Regions from separate parts of the Homo sapiens genome. Here region 1 is linked to region 2. The links come from fine-mapping of genetic effects on gene expression. A gene starts in region 2. The other region holds a variant in brackets. All regions are shown on one strand. Distances are between the middles of the regions.

The links. PIP is the estimated chance that this variant, and not a neighbour inherited with it, causes the effect.
Region 1: its variant is the best candidate, but not a certain one, in a credible set for the expression of PRDM2 in whole blood (TOPMed, PIP 0.78).

Annotation. Positions count from the first base shown.
Region 1 is chr1:13,785,526-13,789,918 of GRCh38, reverse strand. All of the region lies in intron 8 of PRDM2 (PR/SET domain 2), which reads right to left. Among named protein-coding and RNA genes, the nearest start is that of PRDM2, 88 kb to the right of the region's middle. The variant T/C (reference allele first, on the strand shown) is at 2,086.
Region 2 is chr1:13,697,448-13,701,840 of GRCh38, reverse strand. PRDM2 (PR/SET domain 2) reads right to left here and starts at 1,653. Exons shown (of 10, transcript NM_001393986.1): 1 at 1,541-1,653. RefSeq lists a silencer at 1,131-1,900.

The sequences.
Region 1 (4,393 bases), 88 kb before region 2:
GAGTGGTGCCATCAGGCAGGAAAGAGGCCATGAGAGCTGGGCCTGTAAAGGCTGACGGGGAACGATAAACCATTTTCTGTAACTATCAGCCTGGTCTTTGAAACACTTTAAATGTGGCCTTTATATCCTAGTCAACCCTTTTCTCATCCGCCTGTGCTCTAATCCACTTTCAAGGTAAATTGCCCTTTATGATTTTTTTTATGGATTCAAGTCAATATATTCAAAGCGAGGTTCAATATCAAATCAAAACCCACATGAATAAAATATCAAATGCATTAAGTGAGCTATAATTTTAGTAGAGTCATTTTAAGCTAAGTATTAAAAGCCGGCAGTCATCTAGATTACTGGCATTCAGATATTAAGCTAGAAGCATCTCCTTGTCCACCTAGCCTCTGGGGAACTGTGACAGCGAGGAGGTTTGGAATATGAAGTATAAAGTGGGGAAAAAAGCCACTATGAAAATACAAGCCCCACGGAAGTCAGGATTTTTGTCCATTTTGTTCAGAGATGTATCCTAAGCACCTACAACACAGCCAGGCATACATTAAGTACTCAATACATTAAGCTGGTTTTGTAAAATTATCTTGCTAGAAAGTACTTGTAACAACGAGGACAAGACAGCCAGCCTAGCAAGGCATTTACCAGAAACACTGTGAAATGTTTCAATGGTAACAGGGATGGAAGGCTCTAATTAGCTTTTGATTTTTTAAAAACGTTTAACTCTATCAAAGAAGAGCCAAAGCAACCCAAACAGGGCAGCTTCTCCCTTGGTGAGATGGATGTGATGTGGTTCCTTGGTGACTCCTCCAGTAAACATCTGAGTCCCTGTCATGTTCCAGGCAGAGCCAGGGACACTGTGGAGACCGAGCCATCATCCCACTCTTTCAGTCCAGTGCTTGTGTCTGACAGCATCTTGATCCAGGAGAAAAGATCTCCTCCTAGAGGGCGCACTCAGAAACCAGCCAGTCTACTCCCCACTTTTTGCAGACTGGGAACTATGATCCAGAATGTAAAGGAACTTGCCCAAGGCTAAAACACAGAAGACGCAGCCATGGAGGGCGCTTGTTGGAGGCCCGTTTACTGAAGGCACAGGGAAGGGATGAACGGCCAGCAGATGGGTTAGGATGGAAATCCAGTTCTCATCCAAGACCGTGCTCTTTCTCACAACACTCAACTCCTCACAGGGCACTGCTGTGTGTTGAAGCCTCATTTGTTTAAAACTACTAATATCGAAGACCAGTTCCAGATTCCCACCAACCTCTCTCCTCCGTGTTTTTCTAAGGGAGGAATATCGTATGCCAGAACATCTGGCCAAGGGAAGCTGGCTATCCCTTCACCACCTTTCCCTGAGGAGTGACAGACAGATGTGGTTAGCAAAGTGCTATGATGATGAACTATAGGAAACCGCTTATAGTCAGCCATTTTTAATCTTAAAAAACCCCAGCAATTTCACATAAACTGAGTATGTCACAACTTTTTGGTTTCATTCTTTGGAAGCCCATAGAAATAAACATCAATCCACAAACTACAGTAAACTTTTAGGAAGCACAGAGACCCCACAGATGAAATTATTTTGTATTTTACTCTTACCCGAGTGAGTTCACAAGGTACTTCTCGGCACCGTTGTCTGACTACACGTCCACCCTCTACATAGAAATCCAACTGGAATGAGCACATATTCAGTTACTGTCAAATAGAAACAAGTGAACAGACGCCAGGTGGGCTGAGTAGACGCCGCACTTTTAAATTAGAGTGCGGGCTCTGAACAATCCTCCACACACACCTTGTTTTACCCCCTAACTGCTCCCAATTATGTACAAAATGCAGTCCTTTCACAGATGTTTAGAAAGTTTTTTATTGGTTACAATAATATAAAATGCATTGTTTAAATTCTCCTCTAGTTATTAAGTGTTTGCAGCAATAGCACAACAAATCTTTTTTTAATACATCTGACAAGCCCCAATGATTTCAATGCTGGGAGGGGAAAAACAACAAACACCACTCTTGTCTATCTATAATTAACCTCTCTCTCTCTCAGTGCTACATTGGTTAAAATCAATGGACAACCCCTTTTTGTATGTCAAA[T/C]TGTAAATTTTAATGTTTTCATTAGAATAGTCTTTTATAGCACTCTCCAAAAAGAAGCAATAAAATAACTAACAGCAAAGTTCAATACAGGAGCACTCTCCGGGTTAACAACGCCAACAAAAAAAGTGAAATGTAAATCACATATAATACAATTGAAGCGTCCAAAACAATTTAAATAATTTTAAATATTTTATTTTTAAATTGCTACAAATGCTTTATACAATATTTCAACATAAAGTCCCCATAACAGAAATGTAACAAAATGGGAATGATAGTGGAAGGATTAAAGTGGCACAAATTCACCAAACAAATATTAAACTACAAATTTTTCAGAGGTAGATTACTTTTGAAGTTGAGAACAAAAAACAGTATGAATAAAACCTAGCCGCTTTCCACCAACTCAGTCATTAATTTAGGGGGAGGCATAAAATGTAAGGATAAATGATATTAATATACTTAGGAAGAGGCCAATTTGTTGTTTTTAATCTCTATTAGAGATGCAAGTGTAAAACCTGGTATGCAAATTCATTTATACTTACGTGTAGACATACATCTGTACAGGCCTGGGATGCGCCTGTGCACTGATATATTGCTACATAGTCTCTGATAATATAATAGTTATAAATTAGTGCCAGATAAGAATCTGAGAGGATAACGTCCATTTGGATATACAAACGCAACACCAGAATAGGCATAAAAAAGAGTCCATATCCAATCTGGTTTCCTCTCCATTACGCTGGCAATCTACTTGTGATTTAAAAAAACGAAAACAACAAAAAAAAGAAATACCAGGGGTAAGAGATCAGCTAAATGCCTCTCTCTGTCTATAATTAATTTAAAAGAAAGGCATCAAGAGCTGATATGTGACCAAAACGTTTTAAATGAGTGCATCCAAATCTGTCATCCCTGAAACCTACAACAAACTACTGCTAAAACAGGCAACTTGCTTTGCAAGGTTAAGTTCAAATCAATCCTTTCTCTGCTACGTGCCAAAAACAAGGGCCATGCTCAGATCTGAGGTACCAGTCCCATGACGAGGAGCCAGTTCATCTGGCCTGTCTTACAGTGCCCTTCTCTTTGGATCTCAATCACCCGGGCGCCCAGCATGCGCGTTGGGCCCCCACCGAAGCAGCAGATGCCTGACTCTAAGCCTGCCGGCAATCAGCTGAATGTTAGGATTTTTGAGTCAGCTTCAACTGGTCTTGCAAGCTTGGTAGATTTCGTATCCTTTGCCGTAGTGCTTATCCTAAGTTGAGCATGCAATACTTTTTAGTCAATTAAGGTTTGTTTTGTTTTGGGGGCTTTTCTACAGGAAGTTCCTAGAAAATAAGAAAACTGAAGATAAATGACAACAGAACATAACCTTACATGATTGACCATGTTAAAGAAAAAGGTGAATAGACCGTAAGACAAATGTTATTAAGACGACAACACATACATGACTGAAGGCATTTAGGAACGAGCGTCCTACCCAGAAGACACACCCTGCAAGGAACTACACGCATTTATTTCCAAGGGATGTAGCAGAGATGGAGGCATGAGAAATTAGCACTTTTTTTTTTAAATCAATTCCTGGTAAATGGAAAAACTTGGTCTAGAATTTCATTTTGCTTCTCTACCTTTTTCTTGACTGCGATGGGAACTCGGTTTGAAAAGAAAAATGTGGCTCTAAAAGAAGCATTAAAGAACCCAAAAACACCAGGCACGGTGGCTCACACCTGTAATCCCAGCACTGCAGGAGGCCGAGACGGGCGGATCATAAGGTCAGGAGATCGAGACCATCCTGGCTAACACGGTGAAACCCCATCTCTACTAAAAATACAAAAAATTAGCCGGGCATGGTGGCGGGCACCTGTAGTCCCAGCTACTCGGGAGGCTGAGACAGGAGAATGGCGTGAACCCGGGAGGCAGAGCTTGCAGTGAGCCAAGATCGTGCCACTGCACTCCAGCCTGGGCAACGGAGCGAGACTCTGTCTCATTAAAAAAAAAAAAAAAAAAAGAACCCAAAAACACCGTGGGGTTTACAAAGGTGAAAGATGAGTAGGAGGTGAGTAGAGAATACACCTCTTTCCTTCCCTTTCTGCTTTACTGGAGCCCATGGAAATGAACCCTTAGCAACAGATTTAAACTCAGCACTCCAGAAAGCCATGGCGAGGGGTGGGGGGTGGGTCACTGTAGTAAGAGCTGCAGCAGGAGAACCTGAATGACTGTGGCATGCCTGCTTTCCTGTGTTTTCTCCTAAGAAAAATATTTGGAGCACATGGCTTTTTGACACCTTGTCTGGCACCATGGCTTGTGTTCCAGGAAA
Region 2 (4,393 bases):
ATCATGTTCTGGCACTTTTCTAAGCACTTAAAATGTATTAACTTATTTCAATCAAACCAAAACAGATGTGTTGAGTAAAAAGAGCCCTGGAATCACAGAAAATGTAAATGAGTTTTAGTTCCACTGTGAATTTTGATTTGTTTCCATAGCTCGAAATGAGGGGGTTTAATAAAAATGATCTTTAAAGGTCATCTCAAGGCTAAACTAAGATTCTACATGTAAAAATTTGGCCAATAAGTGTTAGTCCGGAAGCCTCAAGAGTGATGGGGCAGTTTGGACCATCTCAAAAACACAGAACCCTACTAAAAAAGAACGTATGACAGTGTGTCTCAGTTCCTCCTCCTTAATATATGTAAATTTCCTATCATGTTTTTTTTTAAAAGGCCTACATTTTTCTAATACTTGGACACAACTGATCAAACCGAGGCGAAGTGTGTACCATTGTAAAAGAAATCATTGAAGAGTTCCATTTGTTGTTAAAAGTTTCGGTCACTTTTAATAAACCTGGAGTAAACAAAAACTTAAACATTTTAGTCGAGTTCTGGGGTAAAAATGATTCTTCTAGTGTCTGGTTAAAGGGATCTAAGGACCTACTGGGATTCAGCAAAAGACGTTCCACGTCTCAAATACACCCAAAATCTCAATACAACACTAAAAGAAAAGTGAGGGGCCAGCACGAAATTTCTGTTAGGGGAAATTTCAGCTGCGTAGTTAAGGAAATCAGGACTTCCCGGTTAACTATGGGGTCTTTGCCGCAGCTCACAGCCCGACACAAAGCTACAAGCCCGGAGGGTCGGTGGCTCACGCGTGGATCGAAAGAACCACGAAGGTTTGGGGAATGACACTGACCTGTTAGGTTTACTTCATGTCTCACTTACCACCATCAAAAGAGGTTCATTGATAGCTTTATTAGCAAAATTAGTAACAGAGTTGCACGTCTGTAACACACACACACGCGCGCGTGCGCACACACACACATACACCCGTGGGTCTATGGGAACATTGAGGGAGACAATCTCCAGGTTAAAACCACACAAAAACTATTTGGGAAACACAAAGACGCAAGACACAAAACAAATTTGGAGTGCAAATGTGCAAGACACACTCAGTGGGAACACAAAAGAGAAAAGCACAGCGGCTTGACAATTGGGACGGCGCCCGGCCCCACGTGGGGCCCCAGGTGGCCCCACCGCCGCCCGCACCCGGCCAGTCTCTGCAGCCCGCACGCGTCCCCCGCGGGGCGCGCGGCTCTTCACGGCGACAAACCGAATCCCGAACTTCGCCGCAGGGACCCCACGGCCGACAAGGAGGAGCCCGGCGCCGCCACCCACCCGCGGGGCCACCGACCCGGAGGCCCGCGCCTCGTCCCGGGGCCCCCGGCACGCCCGGGACCTCTGAGGGGGCGCGTCCGCCGACCCGGCCATCCCTGCGGCGCCGGGTCCCCAGCGTGTCGCCGCCGCCGTCGCCGCCGCGCTCCTCGGGGGGAGGGACCAGCGTCCCGGCGCGAGCCCAGAGGCCGCCCACCCGCGCCACTCCTTACCCGCGCCCGCCGCGCCAGCGCCTCAGAGCACCGAGGGCCGCCGCCGCCGCCGCTGTTTCGCCGGCCCCGGCGCCCGCGGCCGCGCCGCCGCCATCTTGACTCCAGTCGGAAGTGACGTCGGGCGGCGAGGCAGTGGCCTGCGGGGCTGGGGGGCTCCGGGACCCCCGGTCTCCCCACGATCCCAGAGCCCGGCCCTTGACCCTGCGCCGTCGCCCAATGGCCACCACCCAGCCGCCCCTCGTAGGTCACCGCGGATCCCATGGCGGCGCCTCGGGAAGGAACCCCGGCGGCTGGCGTCGCGGCAAGTCCGACCGCACCCTAGGGCTAGGATCCTGCGTGGTTCAAAGATTCTCAAAGAATCAAAAAGACTGAAGGAGGTGTTGGGGGGGCATGTCTATCGTTGGAGGTCATTAAATATCTGACAAGTACATAAACGTAGACCTTATACTTCTACGTTTGGATCTATACCAAAAAGATCCAACTCCAGGCAGACAGACGCAGCTGCTGGGTTTATTTGCTGCCCTAGTACCCAGGAGCAGTGACCAACGCTGCCCTGTGCCCGCGATGTTCCAGTGCAGCGCCTCTGAGAGCGCGGTAGTAGTCCTGCCCTTAAGGAGCTTGCTGTTCCCAAGCGGGCAAACAAATGGACTGCAGAGACGACGACTCATAGATGTTCTGATGAAGATGAACTGGGTGGAACTGGAGATGGCTCTTCGACATCCAAGGGTGGAGGCCTAGCACGTGGTTGAAAATGAGTTGAGTCGGGGAGAAGCACAGGCTGGAGATGAGCTGGAAAGTTGGGAGTTGTCGTTATAGATGGTGCCTGGAGCCTTCAGCACTTCAAGATAAAGTAATCCTCTGAGAATGAAGTCAGGAAGAATCCGAATGTGATGGCTACGTTGGCCATCTGCAGAAAGCACCCAGTGGAAAAACAGGATACTAAGGGCAGGTGTGCTTCCAAAAATTATGAACGATCATTTATGTAACAGGTTTAATCTTAAGAAAACGTGTTGGCCGGGCGCAGTGGCTCACGCCTGTAATCCCAGCACTTTGGGAGGCCAAGGCAGGTGGATCACGAGGTCAGGAGATCGAGACCATCCTGGCTAACACGGTGAAACCCCGTCTCTACTAAAACTACAAAAATTTAGCCGGCCGACGTGGCGGGTGCCTGTAGTCCCAGCTACTCCGGAGGCTGAGGCAGGAGAATGGCGTGAACCCAGGAGACGGAGCTTGCAGTGAGCCAAGATCGCCCCACTGCTCGCCAGCCTGGGCGACAGAGACAGACTCCATCTCAAAAAAGAAAGAAAACGTGTTGTATCAACATATATCATGTTATCTTATTGTAAAAGAATGAGGCTAGGCCGGGCGCGGTGGCTCAGCCTGTAATCCCAGCACATTGGGAGGCCGAGGCGGGTGGATCACGAGGTCAGGAGATCGAGACCATCCTGGCTAACACAGTGAAACCCCGTCTCTACTAAAAATACAAAAAATTAGCCAGGCGTGGTGGCGGGCGCCTGTAGTCCCAGCTACTCCGGAGGCTGAGGCAGGAGAATGGCGTGAACCCGGGAGGCGGAGCTGGCAGTGAGCCAAGATGCCCCACTGCTCTCCAGCCTGGGTGACAGAGCGAGACTCAGTATCAAAAAAAAAAAAAAAAAAAAGAATGAGGCTATAGCTGATGATCGAGTCGGTTATAGTAAACAAATGAAGATCACCTCATTAGAGTAAATTTTATTAAGGCCTTGAGAAGTGACAGGGCTTAAGAAAATAAGGAAATAAATCAAACCTCAAGGGTTTGCTTATTTCTTCCGCTATTCAAGGAAAAGAGACCCTAGATCTGGGAGATACCACGTGCCTGTCATCAAAGTAGTATTCTCTGTTGTGGAGCAAAGTCATCAGACTTCTGCACCCCTTACCTAGATTAATACCTTCCAACTGGATCCATGCATCGAAATTATCTGGGGTATCTATGAAGAAAATAGGGAGACCCCACTGTTCCATCCACCATCAAAACACTGACATAGAAATCACCATTTTAAGAGAAAAGCTATGGGCCACCTGGCATTCAATAGAATGCAAAAGGAAAATAAAGGATGTTAAATCAGAAGTGGCACGGTGAACCAGAATGGATACTAGATGGTTGGTTAACAGAGTAGCCAGTAGTTGTCTTTCCGGTTATTAATTCATTAATCCAAAGTGACTGGCTATATTAGTTTCCTGTGGCTGCTGTAACAAATTATCCCAACCCTGACAACAGAAGTTTATTCTGTCACAACTCTAGAGGCTAGAAGTCCAAAATCAGTATCACTAGGCCAAAATTAAGGTGGCAGCAGGGCCGGGCTCCCTCTGGAGTCTCTAGCAGAGAATTGCTCCTTCCCTTTTCCAGCTTCTGGTGGCTGCCAGCATGCCTTGGCTTGTGACTGCATCACTCTATCTTCAAGGCCAGTATCTTCAAATCTCTATCTCCATCTTCATGTCATCTTCTCCTGTGTATGTGGTCAAATTCCCTCTGCCTCCCTCTCATAATGATACATGTGATTTAGGACCCACCCAGATAATCTGGCCATCTCAAGATCCTTCACTTAATCACGTCTGCAAGACTACATATGAAGTAGCATTTGCAGATTCTGGACGTTAGGGATGTGGATTTAGGTATGGGGCCATTATTTAGCCTACCACACTGGGTGTCTCCTCAGCGTTTCTGAGGTTCCCCCCACCCTTAATCAGCCATTGTGTGGTTTTTATCTGTGTATTTCTTGAACATATGTCTATTTTTCAACCTGTGCTATTTCTCAGGGTAAATAATTAAATATAATTTGTTTAATCCGAAAAAGATCAGAGCCAACAAGAATACAA